3 linked regions of the Homo sapiens genome follow. The protein of the gene in region 1 interacts with the protein of each later gene in a biochemical or structural test. Each region holds a gene or a part of one and is shown on either strand. Other genes may lie near its edges.

What was found. Proteins that work in one complex are often made in the same cells at the same time.
Region 2: the proteins of OTUD5 (region 1) and PDCD5 form a complex in vitro, tested with the Homo sapiens proteins (one study listed by BioGRID).
Region 3: the proteins of OTUD5 (region 1) and UBR5 form a complex in vitro, tested with the Homo sapiens proteins (2 studies listed by BioGRID, with this or other methods).

Annotation. Positions count from the first base shown.
Region 1 is NC_000023.11:48,947,586-48,954,618, reverse strand, and holds part of OTUD5 (OTU domain-containing protein 5), read left to right. Parts: intron 1-7,033. UniProt on the Homo sapiens protein: Deubiquitinating enzyme that functions as a negative regulator of the innate immune system. Has peptidase activity towards 'Lys-48'- and 'Lys-63'-linked polyubiquitin chains. Can also cleave 'Lys-11'-linked ubiquitin chains (in vitro).
Region 2 is NC_000019.10:32,584,173-32,587,969, forward strand, and holds the end of PDCD5 (programmed cell death protein 5), read left to right. Parts: intron 1-777; coding exon 778-839; intron 840-1,643; coding exon 1,644-1,735; coding exon of another isoform or gene 1,736-1,867; exon of another isoform or gene 1,868-2,685; coding exon 2,686-2,757; intron 2,758-3,080; coding exon 3,081-3,128; 3' UTR 3,129-3,281; downstream 3,282-3,797. UniProt on the Homo sapiens protein: May function in the process of apoptosis.
Region 3 is NC_000008.11:102,409,685-102,416,623, reverse strand, and holds the start of UBR5 (E3 ubiquitin-protein ligase UBR5), read left to right. Parts: upstream 1-3,923; 5' UTR 3,924-4,389; coding exon 4,390-4,451; intron 4,452-6,939. UniProt on the Homo sapiens protein: E3 ubiquitin-protein ligase involved in different protein quality control pathways in the cytoplasm and nucleus. Mainly acts as a ubiquitin chain elongator that extends pre-ubiquitinated substrates.

The DNA of each region.
Region 1 (7,033 bases):
CAAGCCTTGTCTTGAGCTCCTTGTTCTTGGTCCCTTCCTCCCATCATTAATTCTGGCACGATAAGCCATTTGTACTCAAGGGTCAGGACCAGTTATTTCTTCTCTCTCTGGTTGGGTAGTTTCTTTCCTCCTCTAGAAGCAGGGAGCCATACATCACTGGTCCTAGGGACAGAGGAAAAACATCCTATGCAGCCATGATAATTCAAAAACACCTCCTTACTCCCCTCCCTTGCGATACATCCCTGGTCCCAGGGACAGAGAGAAAGAACATCCTATGCTGCCATGGTAACTCAAAAACACTTCCTTATGCCCCTTGCAGTCCCTCCCTTATACTTGTCCCCATAAGAACATAAGAGTAAGCCGGGCATAGTGGCGCATGCCTGTAGTCCCAGCTACTCGGGAGGCTGAGGCGGGAGGATCACTTGAGCCCTGGAGTTCAAGACCTGCTTGGCAACATAGCGAGACCTCATCTTTACTAATAAAAAAAAAAGAATATGAAAATCAAGTTTTGTGGGTTCATGAAACCTGCCCTTCCCAATGACAGGAGAGGCTTTCTGTCCCCACACTTCTTAGGACAAAGAAGGTGATCCTCTTCTCCCTGCCTCACCTGGTCCAACTTGAGAGCTTTTGGGGATGAGAAGAGGGAAGATTCCTCCTGCCACCCCAGTCTTGGTCCTAAACTGTCACTAGGGGTGGTTGTAGCCTGGAGGTCAGTTGGATCCCTTGGGAAGAGAGGCGTCGTTGAGGGGGAGTCTAGATGGCGATTCTGGGGTTCTGACTACTTGGGCTTCCTCTTTGTCCTGATTCTCTTGTATCCCTACTTCCTTTAGGAGTCTTTTTGGCACTCTGGGGTCCAGGTGCTGGGTGGGTGGTGATGTCAGGGGTTCCCAGGCATGGCTGCCTTGCTGAGAGTCTGCTCTATGAAAAGGTTGGCCTGTAAGCATCCTGAGTTTGGAGACCCCACAGAGCTCTTTGAGAAGGGGCATGTGAACTGAGGTGGTGGAAAAAGCTGGGTGTGGCACGGTAGTTGGTGCCTGGGTTCCAACTCTGGGTCTTTCAAGGCTTTGCTGGATGAACCAGGGTAGGTTCTACCTATGCTCTCTGGGCCTCAGTTTCCTCACTGGCCAGGCAAAATGCTGGTGAGGTGTTGTTTAGCTTTGGGATTTTAGGGAACTCAGTCCAAAGTTCTCTGGACCTGGAGGTGGCAAAGAATGGTGGATGTCTTTTGAGGAGGAACTGGGTTTCTCCCCTCTCTTCCTGGCTCCTCTGTTCCCTCTCAGCCATCCAAGCTTGGTGGGCAGGACAAGCAGCCTGTTTTGTGTGAGGCTCAGGGTTGATGAACAGCCATTTTTTGTGGGCAGCCATGTTGTAATGAACAAGCTCGATGGGATTTCCTGTCAGGAGGCCTGTTGGATAGTGGTGTAGAGAGGTAGAGTTGTGTGTGGAGTTTGGGCTTTGGAGCAAGGCAAGCTTTGAGCCATCATCCCTCAATTCTCTCATCACCTCCAGACCTCAGCATCTCCTCCTTACCTGCTTTATAGCTTTAGGCAAACTACTTGCCCCCTCAGCTGCCCATTTTGCAAAAGTTTGTCCATGCCCAGGTGTGTCTGACCTTGCACACCTTGGACCTTGGCCGGTTCTTCCTCTTGCCCAGAATGGGCAGTTTGCCCCAGGGTCATCTTGGTTCTTCCTAGGAGCCTTTGTCCACTCCTAGTAACCTATCTTTGATAGCAAAGGCCCTTCATTTGGCATCTAGGAACCTGCTGATTTCTTGGGCTCTTCTTACCCCAACTGGAATTGGGTAGCTAGCTGGTGGGGAAGCAGGAAGGGGTCTCTGCCCAGGCAACGTGGATTTGAGTCCTGTTTCTGCAGTAAGCTTTTCTGTGGTCTTCAGGCAGTTCTCTTTTCTGGTTCTTGGTTTCTCCCTCCATGAAATGGGTAGTGTTGAGGAGGGAGGTTGGACTCATTGCTCTGAAGCAAGTTATAGTCTCCTCCCTGCTCCCACTCCCCTCACCCTTCATGAAAGTTTTAAGTGGGACCCCTTGGCCTTTGGGGATTGTGCTAGGACATTTCAAGCAGTGTTCAGCGTCCTTGGCTGGTGCTGAGCCCTTGGGTGTGTTTCTTTTAACAACTTTAATGAGATGTAATTCATGTACCATACTATTCACCTCTTTGAAGTGTACAGTTCAGTGGCTTTTAGTATATTCACAGATTTGTGCGTCCATCACATCACTACAGTCCATTTTAGAACATTTTCATCACCTTAAAGAGAAATCCAGCACTCTTTAGCTATGATCCCCCAATTTCCTCATCCCTTTCCAGCCTCTGGCAACCACTAATCTACTTTCTGGCTTGATTGATTTGTCTGTTCTGGATGTTTCATGTAAATGGAATAATAGAATATGCAGTTGTTTGTTACTTGGCTTTTTTCACTTAGCATAATATGTTCAAGGCTTATCCATGTTGTAGCATACATCAGTGCTTCATTCCTTTCTATTACTGAATAACAGGACCTTGGGTTTTTTTGTTTTTTGGTTTTTGTTTTTGTTTTTGTTTTTTTTTTAAGGTGGAGTCTTGCTCTGCTGCCCAGGCTGGAGTGCAGTGGCGCAATCTCAGGTCGCTGCAACCTCCGGCTTCCGGGTTCAAGTGATTCTCCTGCCTCAGCCTCCCAAGTAGCTGGGGCTACAGGCATCTGCCACCACACCCGGCTAATTTTTGTATATTTAGTAGAGATGGGGTTTCACCATGTTGGCAAAGCTGGTCTCCTGAACTCCTGACCTCAGGTGATCTGCCTGCCTTGGCCTCCCAAAGTGCTGGGATTACAGGTGTGAGTCACCGCACCCTGCCAATCTTAGAGGTTTTTAATCCCCCTGCCCTCAGTGGCCTAGCCAAATGTTGGGGCCTTGCTCTTCTCCCCTTCTGCCCTGGAGGGCTTGTGTTGGTCCTTAGAGAGTAGTGTGTCTATGTTCCTCGTTGGATGGGTTGCCTGTGTGTGTTTTTTTTTGAGATGGAGTCTCACTCTGTCCCCCAGGCTGGAGTGTAGTGGCGCGATCTTGGCTCACTGCAACCTCCACCTCCCAGGTTCACACCATTCTCCTGCCTCAGCCTCCCGAGTAGCTGGAACTACAGGTGCCTGCCACCTCGTCTGGCTAATATTTTTGTATTTTTAGTAGAGACAGGGATTCACTGTGTTAGCCAGGATGATCTCGATCTCCTGACTTCGTGATCCGCCCACCTCGGCCTCCCAAAGTGCTGGGATTACAGGCGTGAGCCACCACGCCTGGCCCCCTGTGTTTTGTCCATGGAGCCAGGCTAGTGTTCCTGGGTGCTTTGCTGGAGGGGGTGGTCTTGGCACCAGGGCTGCTGGGACAGAGCTGTGAGTCACAGAATGCTAAACACCTTTTGACCATAGGCTCTGGGAAGACATCTGTCCATGAACTGCCACTGCTGCTGCCATCTTTTGCCCCCCCACCCCACCCCCACTTCAGTGGCAGCTCATCCATCCATAGGCAGGGTCAGTAGTTTCCCAGGGTGAGAAGGGAGATTCCAGGCCCCTGCTGCCTTAATTCTAACCTCCCACCCTGGAGGATGGTAGGCAGGTGGACCTTGCAGAGCGGGATCCATGCCATATTGTCTCACACCTGTGAGGCACTAGGGAACAGACACCAAGGAGTGCTACCAAGGGGGGTGTGTTAGTTTCCTGTGGCTGTTGTGACAAATGTTACCACAGACTGGGTGGTTTAAAACAACAGAAGTTGGCCGGGTGCGGTGGCTCACCCCTGTAATCCCAGCACTTTGGGAGGCCGAGGCGGGTGGATCACGAGGTCAGGAGTTCAAGACCAGCCTGGCCAAGATAGTAAAACCCCATCTCTACTAAAAATATAAAAATTAGCTGGGTGTGGTGGTGGGTGCCTGTAATCCCAGCTACTCGGGAGGCTGAGGCAGAGAATTGCTTGAACCCAGGAGACGGATTGGAGGTTGCAGTGAGGTGGGGGTTGCAGTAAGCTGAGATTGCGCCACTGCACTCCAGCCTGGGTGACAGAGCGAGACTCCATCTCAAAAAAAAAAAAAAAAAAAAAAAGAGAGAGAGAAGTTTATTCTGTCACAATTCTGGAGGCCAGAAGTCCACAATCAGTTTCACTGCATCCAAATCAAAGTGTTGGCAGGGCCACACTCCTTCTGGAAGCTCTCAGGGAGAATTTAGACCTTCTCTAGCCTCTCGTGGCTGCCAACATTCCTTGGTTTATGACTGCATCATTCTAATCTCTGCCTCCATCTTCACCATCGCCTTCTCTGTATATGTGGTTTCCTTTTCTGTCTGTATCAAATTTCCCTCTGTCTCTCTTTTATAAGGACACTTGTGATTGCATTTAGGTCCTACCTGATACTCTAAGATAACCCCCCATCTCCAGATTTAATAATGTAAGTTAATTACATCTGCAAACACTTTTTTTCTTTTCTCTTCTCTTTTTTTTTTTTTTTTTGAGGTGGAATCTCACTCTGTCACCCAGGCGCAGTCTCGGCTCACCGCAACCTCCGCCTCCTGGGTTCAAGCTATTCTCCTGCCTCACCCTCCTGAGTAGCTGGGATTGCAGGCGCCCACCACCACACCTGGCTAATTTTTGTATTTTTAGTAGAGATGGGGTTTTGCCATGTTGGCCAGGCTGGTTTCAAACTCCTGACCTTAGTTGATCCACCCGCCTCGGCCTCCCAAAGTGCTGGGATTACAGGCATGAGCCACTGTGCCCGGGCTTTTCTTTTCTTTTCAGACAGTGCTGGCCTCTGTCACCCAGGCTGGAGTGCAGTGGCGTAATCTTGGCTCACTGCACCCTCCACTTCCTGGACTCAAGTGATCCTCCAGCCTCAGCCTCCTGAGTAGCTGGGACCACAGGTGCGAGCCACCATGCCCGGTTAATTTTTGGTGTTTATTTATTTGTTTTTGAGATGGAGTCTCGCTGTGTCACCCAGGCTGGAGTGCAGTGGTGCTATCTCGGCTCACTGCAACCTTCGCCTCCCAGGTTCCAGCGATTCTCCTGCCTCAGCCTCCTGAGTAGTTGGGATTACAGGCGCCTGCTACCATGACCAGCTAATTTTTGTATTTTTAGTAGAGATAGGGTTTCACCATGTTGGCCAGGCTGGTCTCGAACTCCTGACCTCAGGTGATCCACCCGCCTCGGCCTCCCAGAGTGCCGCGATTACAGGCGTGAATCACCGTACCTGGCCTGTATTTTTTGTAGAGATGAGATTTCACCATGTTGCCCAGGCTAGTCTTGAACTCTTGAGCTCAAAGCGATCTGCCTGCCTTAGCCTCCCAAAGTGCTGGGATTGCAGGCATGAGCCACGACGCCTGGCCCTACCTTTTTCATTATAAGGTAACATTTACAAGTTCCAGGGGGGTTAGGGTTTGATATCTTTGCGTGGCTATTAATCAGCCTACTAGAGAGGCTTTTTTCCCTCCTGGGGAAGGGAAGGGAACTCATTAAGTGGTCTCTTACTGGGCAAAGCCCTGTAATATTTGAGTCTGCCCAGCATCCCTATTATTGGGAGGCTTGGTATCCCCATTCACAGATTGGAAAACTGTGGCTCAGAGCAGTTCATCATCACATGGCTAATAATTGGTGGAGCTAGATTGGAACCTAAGTCAGTTGGGTTCCACAGCCTGCTCCAACTTCACTTGGGCCCTTAGACCACTAGGTTACAGAATCTTGCCTCAGCTCCTGGGATCCTCTGGTGTTAGGGAGCTTTACTCAGCCTTTTTGTGGAGGCTCAAAGATATGGAGGGATTTTCCCATAGGCTCAGCGATGAGTTTGCAAGGTTCACAATCTCCTCAGGCCAGGGCATTGTTGGAGCTTAAACTTATCTATGGCTGAGCTATCCCCTACCCCCCACCCCTACTAGCCCTTCCTGAGCAACATTTTCTCCCCAAAAGGAGAAAGAGAAGGGCCAGAGCCCAAACTCCTCAGGCTGCTGATGACAAAGCCAGTGGGTGGCTAGCAGTCCAGCCTCTAGATCCAAGCCTGGATGCCAGTTTGACTGCCCCAGGACCCAAACCCTGCAGTGCGAGGGGCCTATTCAGGTCTCTTTCATGTTTAGAGACAAACCAGGATATTCTGTGGATGGGCTGCAAGGTATGTCCTCCATGCTGTGGCTCGTGGGGGCCTTCCCTGTTGCCTCTACACTAGGCTTTGCTGGTATCCAAACTCCAGCTCCTTTCTCTTTCTGCCTTTGTTTTTTTGTTTTTTGTTTTGTTTTTGTTTTTGTTTTTGAGACATAGTCTTGCTCTGTTGCCCAGGCTGGCTGGGGTGCAATGGTGCCATCTCGGCTCACTGCAACCTCCACCTCCCGAGTTCAAGCGATTCTCCTGTCTCAGCCTCCCAAGTAACTGGGATTACAGGCACACGCCACCACGCCCTGCTAATTTTTTGTATTTTCAGTAGAGACAAGGCTTCGCCATGTCGGCCAGGCTGGTCTTAAACTCCTAACCTCAGATGATCCTTCCGCCTTGGCCTCCCAAAGTGCTGGGATTACAGGCGTGAGCCACCGTGTCTGGCCTCCTTTCTGCCTTTGTAAAGTGAGGGTAATGTTTCCTGCCACCTGGGCTGTGGTCAGGAAAATTAAACGAGGTCACCCTTTGCATCTGGCATGGGGCAGGTATTCAGTTAATATGAGTTCATCTTTCTTCCTGGTCCTCCCTGCTTACCTGCCTAGTACTACCCAGAACTTTAGCTCTACTGAATTCATTGCTGGGCTCCAGGCATTCCTGGTACTTCGTGGCAGAAGTGACTTCATTTCTCATCCAGTTAACAAGCATTTTTGGAGGTCTTGGTGTTTTAATCCTTTGGTCAGGTGGCACCTCCTCTCAGGTGCTAGCCTTAATGACTGTGTTTCTTTTTTTCTTTTTTTTTTTTTTCCTTGAGACAGAGTTTTGCTCTTATTGCCCAGGCTGGAGTGCAATGGTGCGATCTTGGCTCACCACAACCTCCGCCTCCCGGGTTCAAGCGATTCTCCTGCCTCAGCCTCCCGAGTAGCTGG
Region 2 (3,797 bases), on another chromosome or scaffold:
CAAACCATAAAGAAGTGGCCTATGGAAATGAGCTTTAAGCCACATTCCATGAACCGAAGGGCCTCTGAGCTGGGAGTGGATAGTGGGCACAGCCAGCCCCAGCTCTCCCTCTCAGTTGAGCCAAAGCATCTGTGCTCATTTGTTTTTAGATTTCTTAAAGGATTTCATTTGAAAGAAAAAAGAAACAAGTCCATGAGACCACTGTCCTGTGAACGTGAACTACTTTCTATTTGGGTAGGTAGGAAGAAGTGAGGATAGTTGCAAAGTTATAATTTCATTCCCCTTCCCCACCCAGAAAAATAGAACTGAGAGTCTTAAAACATGGAATCTGGCTGTAGCTTGGCCACAGTTACCTATGTCTCTTTAGCATAGCCTCCTGGATCTCAGCTTTATCTCTAAGAAAATGATATAGATTAGTCACATGGTCCTTCTAATTGCCTGAAATCCCACTATAAATTTCTAGCACCTGTCACGCAATAGGTACTTAAGAAATGTTGGTGATGGTGTTTGAACTGAGGCTCCACTCTGATGAAACTGTAAAGCTCACCTTCCAGCCTGGTAGGTTGTCACCTGTGTAATATAAAGCTGGTTCTTTGAGGGCAAAAGGGGATTCTACTTGAATGTAGCTGCAGCCTTATGTACAGCAACTACCATAATGCAGTTTGTATACCGCAGGCCCCATGTGGAGACACATACTGGATGGGTTCTTTCTCGTATGTTACATGGGAATGCCGACAGCTGTGTTTTAATTGTGTTTGACCTATGTTTTCGTTGTAGGGAAGCAGAAATGAGAAACAGTATCTTAGCCCAAGTTCTGGATCAGTCGGCCCGGGCCAGGTGTAAGCATCTTTGATTTCATTTCCATAAAGTTAGCTTGAGTTAGTTGAATGGGGTGATTAGATACCATTATTGCTATCACTAGATGAAATATTTGCTTAGGCTGAAAACACTTGAGATGTGTAAGAAGTGTGAAGTTTATAAACCTAGAGAACTGTACTTTAATCCCTAGTAAAAGTACCAGGTCACTTCTCTTACCAAGATGTTCTCCAGGTGTGTATTAGGTAAGATTTATAGGAAACAACTCATAGGGCCAATCACAAAATGTTGCTGGTAGTTGACATTTTGTGTCAACTGGTGATGGGGACTGGGGATGGGGGACTTAGGGGCTTTTTATATGTATTGTCAGTTTTAGTGTATGTTCAGAGTTGTTCATCATAAAAACCAAAACCTGTAGAAAGAAAAAATGAGACAGTCAGAATGAACTGGTATTTTCTGTATTTTAACTGGAAGCCCAGTTTGAGTGTAGAAAAGGCGGCCACAGGTGGATCACCACCATTATGTGTAATAGATAAACCGCTTTCCAGAGGGCAGTCATATATTTTAAGAAACAGGAAGCATGGTGCTTAGAATCTGAGAACCCAACTTTAATCTTGGCTGGGCCACTACCCCCATGTGCCCATGTGGAGATTGGCATGGGTGAACTTCAGTTTTCTCATTTTTAAGAGGAGTAACAATACTGTCTTGCCCTACACTGAGGGACAAGCTTGTGAAGTGCTTTGGAAAGGTCAATGCATAGTTTTAAGGTATAACATAAGTGCATTTGATTTTAATGGATTTTTTGCATATGTATTTTTTCTTTTTAGTAAGTAACTTAGCACTTGTAAAGCCTGAAAAAACTAAAGCAGTAGAGAATTACCTTATACAGATGGCAAGATATGGACAACTAAGTGAGAAGGTAAGCTTAGACAGCCTTGAGGAACTTTACTGTTACCTGCTTTATCAAAACATGGCTTCAAAAGGTCAGCTGCATCTTCACTGGATTACAGAATTCTTGCTGACTCTCAGAAGAAATTGTTGGAGAGAATAGTCATACCTACTTTAAAAGAGAATAAATTGCCTTTCCTAAATTCCTCTGCTTCGCTCCTTTCCTGGCGTTGCTCTGGAACCTTGTTGGTGTCTGTGACCCAATGACTGTTAGGGTCAGCTAGCTTCAATTGCCCCTGCACTGGAAGCAAGGTTTGTCAGTAACACCAATTAAAATACTACCAGTGTAAGTAGAAGGTGTGTTTTGCAGATGAGAAGGTGCTAAGATGCCTTGCTTATGTTCTCTGTGTTGCTGTAATACCATGAGGGGTATGTTGTGGCAAACCTGGCCTTTGAGATCAAGACGAACCCCACCTGCCCTGAGAAGCCGTCTGCTACCACCACAGCCTACCCGAATTGGTCCTGTCCCCTAAACCCCTCACACTGAGAACTGCTTGTGTGGGAGAGAGCTGGTTGGGTTGATCTTTTCCGAGTGTGACTTACCTCCTTCAAGGGGATGTTTAAGCTTCTCGGGCAGAAGTGGTGTGTCTATTCCTGACACCAAACACCGTGGTATATGTGGTTGTCACACTCAGCTAGTGATGATAAAGGTGTTCTTAAATATGTTAGCTTTCAGTTTTCCTGAGGAAGCAATTTTATGGATACTTCCCCCTCCTTCTCAAGTGAGGAATAGCAGAGCAAATTTTATTTGGAACTTAAACCAATAGTTATAACCAATAGTTTCAACCTCCTGCCTCACCACTGCTTCCTTCCTGAGCTCTTTCCCCACACCTCAAAAAGAGTACAAAGTGATTCCATCTGCAGAGGTAAATTCTTTGTTTAAAAAAGTACTGTTTTTCTTATCTTTTCTGGTTCTCCTAGGTATCAGAACAAGGTTTAATAGAAATCCTTAAAAAAGTAAGCCAACAAACAGAAAAGACAACAACAGTGAAAGTAAGTGTCCCCAGATGCTTGTGGCAAATGAAAAGATGGATACTTTAAAGATTAATGTTGAGTATACATCTACCACACATATTTTTCAGCCCAGAGACATTTTCCTTTTGTCAAACACGTGAAAGTTTGGGGAGAAAGGCTGAATCTGTTGGGGGAGGGTTCTAATTTTTATAGGCTCTTGACTCCATTCCCACCCTTTTAGTTCACGCTAAGTTGCTTTAAAGACACAAATGTCTTGCTAAAATTGGTAGAAATCTTTTCTCGGAAAATCTGAGTTATGCTTTATTAGAAATGTTCTGACACTCATTTAATTTTCCTCCCAGTTCAACAGAAGAAAAGTAATGGACTCTGATGAAGATGACGATTATTGAACTACAAGTGCTCACAGACTAGAACTTAACGGAACAAGTCTAGGACAGAAGTTAAGATCTGATTATTTACTTTGTTTATTGTCTATATGCCTTTTAAAAAAATAAACTTGTTATGCAAAATAAAACATTTGGGTAAGTTGTTTTAGTATCATAGCCAAGTGGCCAGATCTGTGTTTTGAATTTTTCCCCTTCCTACCAAAAGCTTTTTTTATTTTTATTTTTGTTATTATACTTTAAGTTTTAGGGTACATGTGCACAATGTGCAGGTTAGTTACATATGTATACATGTGCCATGCTGGTGCGCTGCACCCACTAACTTGTCATCTAGCATTAGGTATATCTCCCAATGCTATCCCTCCCCCCTCCCCCCACCCCACAAGAGTCCCCAGAGTGTGATGTTCCCCTTCCTGTGTCCATGTGTTCTCATTGTTCAGTTCCCACCTATGAGTGAGAATATGCGGTGTTTGGTTTTTTGTTCTTGCGATAGTTTACTGAGAATGATGATTTCCAATTTCATCCATGTCCCTACAAAGGACATGAACTCATCATTTTTTATGGCTGCATAGTATTCCATGGTGTATATGTGCCACATTTTCTTAATCCAGTCTATCATTGTGGGACATTTGGGTTGGTTCCAAGTCTTCGCTATTGTGAATAGTGCCGCAATAA
Region 3 (6,939 bases), on another chromosome or scaffold:
CATCTGGGACAACAAAAAGGTAGCAAAGCCAAGATGATTATCAAAGACCAGAGAGGCAGTTTCCCAATAGGCTGTCTAGAGGAAGCAGACCAACTTTCAACCAGGAGAAAAAGTCTCAGTCCTAGGAAACTAGGAATGGGTGAATCGAGTTGAAAGCAGGATAAAAGCATAATGAAAAGACAAAGGAGATATTTGGAAGAAAGAGAAGCAAGGCAAACTATGGGTATGGTGTGATCTGTTTGGGGGCAATTCTAAAAAGATTAGATTTAAGCCAGGTATTCTATTTGCTCAGAACATTCTTGAAAGCTCAGCTTGGCTGGGCGTGGTGACTCAAGCCTGTAATCCCAGCACTTTGGGAGGCTGAAGAGGGTGGATCACCTGAGGTCAGGAGTTCGAGACCAGCCCGGACAACATGGTGAAACCCTGTCTCTACTAAAAATACAAAAAATTAGCCGGGTGTTGTGGCGGGCACCTGTAATCCTAGCCACCCAGGAGGCTGAGGCAAGAGAATTGCTTGAATCTGGGAGGCGGAGGTTGCAGTGAGCCAAGATTGCGCCACTGCACTCCAGCCTGGGCAACAAGGTTGAAACTCCGTCTCAAAAAAAAAAAAAAAAAAAAAAGAAAGCTCAGCTTGAGTGACTTTTCTTAATTCTCTTGGCTGGAATCACTTCCTCCTTCAACCTCCACATTACTCTTCTTCCATTTATCATATAATTTTTTTCTCTATTGGCTTTGAATAGTCTGTTCCTTCTAAATTATTAACTTCTAGATGGCAGCAGTGGTATAGTGGAAAGAACAATGGAATCCAAGTCAGAAGACCGGGGTTTCAGTATCAGCTTCAGTCCTTACCTCAGGTGTTTGAGCCCCAGTGTCCTCATCTAGATAACAGGGATATTATAATTTACCCTATAGTGTGATTCAAGTATTAAAAGGTATAAGGTGTAAAAGTTGAACATAGATGGGAGGCCGAGGTGGGTCGATCGCTTGAGCCCAGGAGATCAAGACCAGCCTGAGCAACATGGCAAAACCCCGCCTTTACAAAAAATACAAAAATTAGCCAGGCGTGGTAGCCTGTGCCTGTAGACCCAGCTACTCGGGAGGCCAGTGCAGGAGAATTGCTTGAGCCTGCTAGGTGGAGGTTGCAGTGAGCCGAGGCCATGTCACTGCACTCCAGCCTGGGTGATGGGAGTGAAATCCTGCCTCAAAAAAACAAAAACAAAAACAAAAACAAAAAAAAAAACTGGAACATAGCACCAGACAAGTAAATGTTTCCATTTGCTGAGCCTACTATGTATATGAACTGTCCTAGGTGTCTGACATACATTATCTTATTTAGATCTCACTGCAACTCTGTGTAGATAGATCTATTAGTATGGAATATTTAACAAATGAGGAAAAAAGATGCAATGATAGGTTAAATCTAACTAATTTTTTTTTAAGACAGATTCTCATTCTGTCGCCCAGGCTGGAGTGCAGTGGCACAATCTTGGCTCACTGCAACCTCCACCTCCCGGGTTCGAGCAAGCAATTCTCCTGCCTCAGCCTCTGGAGTAGCTGGGACTACAGCCACACCAACACTCCTGGCTAATTTTTGTATTTTTAGTAGAGACAGGGTTTCACCATGTTGGCCAGGCTGGTCTCAAACTCCTGACCTCAGGTGATCCACCCACCTCGGCCTCCCAAAGTGCTGGGATTATGGGCGTGAGCCAGTGCACCCGGCCAAATCTAACTAATCTAAATCCAAGTAAGGCCACGTAGTTAAGTAGCAGAAACAACTGAAATTTAGATCTGGGCTGGGCGCAGTGGCTCACGCCTGTAATCCCAACACTTTGGGAGGCCGAGGTGGGTGGATCACCTGAGGTCAGGAGTTCGAGACCAACCTGGCCAACATGGTGAAACCTTGTCTCTACTAAAAATACAAAAATTACCCAGGCATGGTGGCAGCGCCTGTAATCCCAGCTACTCGGGAGGCTGAGGCAGGAGAATCACTTGAACCCAGGAGGCGGAGGTGGCAGTGAGCCAAGATCGTGCCATTGCACTCCAGCCTGGGCGACAGAGCAAAGACTCCGTCTCAAAAAAAAAAAATTTTTTTTAGATCTGTTTGGCTTGAAATCTAGCAGTGTCTACTGGTCTACCTTCCTTCCTCAGGGCTCCCAGGGACATCTAATAGTGACCTTGAAATCACTTTTTAGTCTAAACTAATCTGGGCCAATGGTTGAGCTGGTAACCTACAAAAGTGTTCCATTATCTGCCTTGAGGGTACCAGGTCTGTCCTGATTTGTAAGTATTTTTTCATAAATTTTGCTCAGAAGAACTTCCTAAGCAAAACTGTGTGTGTGTGTGTGTAATTCATTAACAGACCACCTCTGTAGAAGGAATGTCATGTTCTCAGTTTTTGCCTTCGAAGAGGTACTTTATTTTTTAAAGGAGGTCATAGAAACCTTTGAGAAGAAAGTCATGAATTGGTTCCTTAGGGAAAAAAAAACAGACTTATTTGATTAAAAAAAATTTTTTTTTGAGATGGAGTCTCGTTCTGTTGCCCGGGCTGGAGTGCAGTGGCATGATCTCAGCTCACTGCAACTTGCCAGGTTCAAGCAAGTCTTCTGCCTCAGCTTCCTGAGTAGTGGGGTTTACAGGCGCGCACAGCCATGCCTGGCTAATTTTTGCATTTTTAGTAGAGATGGGGTTTCACCAAGTTGGCTAGGCTGGTCTCGAACTCCCAACCTCAGGTGATCCGACATCCTCGGCCTTCCAAAGTGCTGGGATTACAGGCGTGAGCCACTGTGCGCCGTGGCCAAAACTCTGAAAGTGTCTTATAGTAGAAACTCGGTATAAAAGATCCTATCTCGGCCAGGCGTGGTGGCTCAGGCCTGTAATCCCAGCACTTTGGGAGGCCGAGGCGGGTGGATCACCTGAGGTCAGGAGTTCGAGACCAGCCTGGCCAACATGGTGAAACCACATCTCTACTAAAAAAGAAATACAAAATTAGCCGGACGTGGTGACACATGCCTGTAATCCCAGCTACTCCATAGACTGAGACAGGAAAATCGCTTGAACCCGGGAGGCGGAGGTTGAGGTGAGCCGAGACCGCGCCATTGCACTCCAGCCTGGGCAACAAGAGCGAAACTCCGTCTCGGGGAAAAAAAAAAAAAAAATAATAATTTTCCGTTCTGATTCCACTGATCATAAATTGAACTCCTTTGTAGAACAGGTTTATCATCTTTCATTTAAAAGTAATAAAAAATCACGAATCATTTATATCAGGAAATTAGTGGAAATTTCCACATTTTGTCTTTGGGCATGTGATGGTGGTGAGGAAACTGGGGAGACCGAGGTAATAGAAGTTGCTGCAAAGCCAACTCCAGGATCCTACTATCTCCTTCTGGAAAGGCCCTTACATAATTTCCTTACTTTTCCAATAAAAGGCTGTATATGTCTTGCCCCTTAACTGATTTTACCAACTTCACCATAAATACAACTGCGGATGAAGGATGAGAAGCAACAAGAAACCCCTAAGGATCCGCCAAATAATTAGGGCTGCCCCAGGGGAATCCGAGCGAAAGAACACAAGAGCCCCTCTTCCTCCTCGCCTCCTCTGGGACACACACTTACCCTCCCTCCCGGCAGGTTAGCCCGCAGCCTCCTCCTTCCCTAACACGTGCTCTCCGGAACACTCACTCTGGAGACATCCCACCCCCGGCGGGGCTGGGCTCGGGAGCCGAACGGACCAATCGGCACGCGCCTTACAGCGTCGTGGCCCGACAACGTTGAGCAGCCCAATCGAGGGGGCCTTGCCGCCCGTTTCCCGGAGCCCCGCCTCTCGCCGCCGCGCCCCCGCCCGCCGGTCTCCTCCCTCCTCCTCCTCCCGTTTGCCCCTCCCCCGCCGCTCCGGAGCGGAGCCTGCGAGACGGAGAAACTGGGGCAGAAGTGAAGATGGCGGCGGCAGCTTCTCGCTAGTGACGCGCGGTGCGGGCTCATCTCCTTCCCCTCCTTCCTCACCTCCCCTAGTCCGGACCCCGTCCGCCGCCGGGACCAGACCGTCCCCGTAGCCCGCAGCCAGCAGCCGCCCCTCTCCTCCCCCGGCCGCCCCTCTCCCAACGCCCGTCTGCCGCTGGCCGGCGGCGCGCCCCTGGTCCCGGCCGCCTGCCTCGCACTCCGCGCTGTCGCCGGGGGAGCGGGTGGCGTGTGGATTCGCCCTCCTGCCCGCCCCTCCGGGCCGCGGACACACGCCCGGCAGGGAGGCGGCGGCGGCCCCTGCGTATTTGCTTCCCTCCATTTGGGGACTGGGAGGCGGCGGCGGCTGTGGGTTTTGGGGAGGGGTAGAGGGCTGGGGGGCGGGCGAGAGCGGGAGGGGGCCGCCCTCGAGTGGAGGACGAGAAGGAAAGCACCATGACGTCCATCCATTTCGTGGTTCACCCGCTGCCGGGCACCGAGGACCAGCTCAATGACAGGTAATAGGGCTGGCGGGTCGGCGGGCGCGGGGGGAGGGGCGCCCTTCCCTCCCTCCCCTCCCCCACGGGCCGTGCCGGGCGGGTGCGGGTGTTTACGCGCCGGCCGGCCAGCTGGGGTGGGGTGCGGGGGTCCTTACTGCCTCCTGCTAGGCTCCTTCCGGGGCAAACTTCTCATCCCGGGGGCAGGGGGCCGCGGGGGGAGCGCGGTGTAGACGGGACTCGCGGTGTAGACTGGAGAGCGCTCTGTAAACCCCCTTCCCCCTCCCGCAAGGAGCGGCGTTGAACTCGGCGGAGATGGGGGGGTGGTTTCTGGCTCCCGGGGGGCAGGCGGTAATTACTGCCCGGCCAAGGCCCGAGGAATCCATATTAGTCAAAGTTGAATTGAGACAGACAATGCGGATGGGGGATGGTGGAGGTAAAAAGAGAGGGAAGAGGAGAAGCGGGGCCAGGGGCCCCGGGGTGGGCTGGGCTGGGCTTGTCCCGGGCCCCCGGCAGCTGTGTCCGGTGGGGTGGTCTGGACCTGGGGATCCCGGGGTCGGGTTGGGGAGAGAAGCCGATTCCCGGCAGATTGCTGGGAGCGGGCGGGGGGTGGGGGGAAGGTGATAGTTGGGGGAGGGAGTGAGGGAGGAAGCGCCATGATTATTGTTATTATTATTAAATTTGAGCCCCTGCAGTGAGGTTTGCCTGCCCCGGGAGGGGATGGATTCAAGCGGGGGTGGGGAAGTGCATTGGATTCCCTTTACTCTCCTCCTGAAATGGTGCTGGCAGCTCCTGCTACTAGCCCCTGTGGTGCGAGCTTTTTTGTTTCCTTTTCTATTCTAATGATAGTGTTTTCCTGAGTTGTAATTTGACAGCTGAAAACCGTGCGTAGAGTGTCAAAGGAAAACTCTTACGTTTGCAGTTCGCAATGCTGCTTTTCTTAACACGCTGTAAATTTCTGGGTTGGGTTTGCTATGGGCGGAGGATGAATTATGATTTTATTTTATGTTTTGTCTTTTATAGGCTGTTTTGGTTTGGATTTCTCCTTTTCTTCCGCCACCGTTCCTTGCCAGTTTAGGATATTGAATTGCAGTGCCGCATGCTCTCAGGGAACTGAGATAAGGCAGGAAAAGTTCCTTCACTGTTGGAAAACAGACTCAGGAGGTTGAGGGAGGCCTCCATTAAAGCATGTCTTAGAATCTAAGACTCAGATCTAATGATGGGCTAAATGTTTACAGGATCACAAAGTGGAGCATTTTAAGTCTTCCTCTCTCCCAGTACTTCACTGCTCTCTACATTTCTTTTGCGTATAGAAGGCCATCTGGTCCCAAGTTTAGAAGTTACATAGAATTTTTGCTAAGTGACCGGGTGACTTAAGTTGCATGATGCCCTGTTTGTCATGCGCTTCCCAGAGGGAGGAAGAGGCCTAACTTGCTGCTGAGATACTGGCCTCTTGTGTCAGTGTATCTAACCGCCTCAAGTGGAGCAGACAGCTTTTAAATCCAGAGCTGGCGGTTTAGTTTCTGCACTTGGTTCGGATTTGCCTAATCTTTGCTGTAGCCATATTGTATTTAACATGTTTGGGAATCTTTTGAAATACTTACTGAAAATACTAACTACTCAGAGTTGTCACATAGTTCCTTTAAATTCTGAAATAACTTTTTAGTTATTTAACATTTTGTTATGTGGTTCTTAGCCTGACTTTACTTCATTAAAGATCTTTTGGAGACATTAACATAAAATTTTTTGGTAAAATTTAGAAACAGGCTAGTAGTGAGGATAGCTCTACGGTCATTAACAGAACCATGTTGGTAGTGCTTGTCTTGTTACTTAGAAAACCGCACCAGAGAGAAGAGAGGTAGGGCATGTTTTCTATATTAGTCCTAACTTTATGTACCAAGAAACCTGACTAGCTTACTCAGTTGGCTGTGCATGCCAAAACCTATTTTGCGGTTGTGTTGGGCACTTTGATTCATTTTTGAGCATTCCTTTTGCTTCAGCTATTTGAGAAATTTACAAGTAATGTATCTTTTTAAATGCTAACTCTTCTTTTTCCATTCCTAGTATAAACAATCAGCTTTGTTTGATTCTTCTATCATTATACAACATTAAAAATATTTAGATCATAGTGACTTTTAATTTCATGAAATTAGGAAAAAAGTAGACTTGAGTCATAACATGTGCATCAAGGTGGCAGATATTTGAAAAATAGAAAGGTGCCGTAGGTGAAATTATAAAGAGCTATATGGTTGTATCTAGTAGCGGTAAACATGTCTTGCCTTTTGAGATTTGTGAAGGCAGCATTTAAGATAGGCACATATCCTAAGTTTTGAAGTAGCTGATTTGTGGCAGGAGCTGTTCTGTGTTTCCCTTTCAAAAGGAGGGCTCCTTTTTGCATACCTACTTGTAATAGGATCAACCTGTCACTTGAGAAAAATCTGTTTCCAAAAGAGACTGGTTTTCTGGAACCTTTTAATTAACTAGAATAAGCGTATTTTCATCTAAAGAT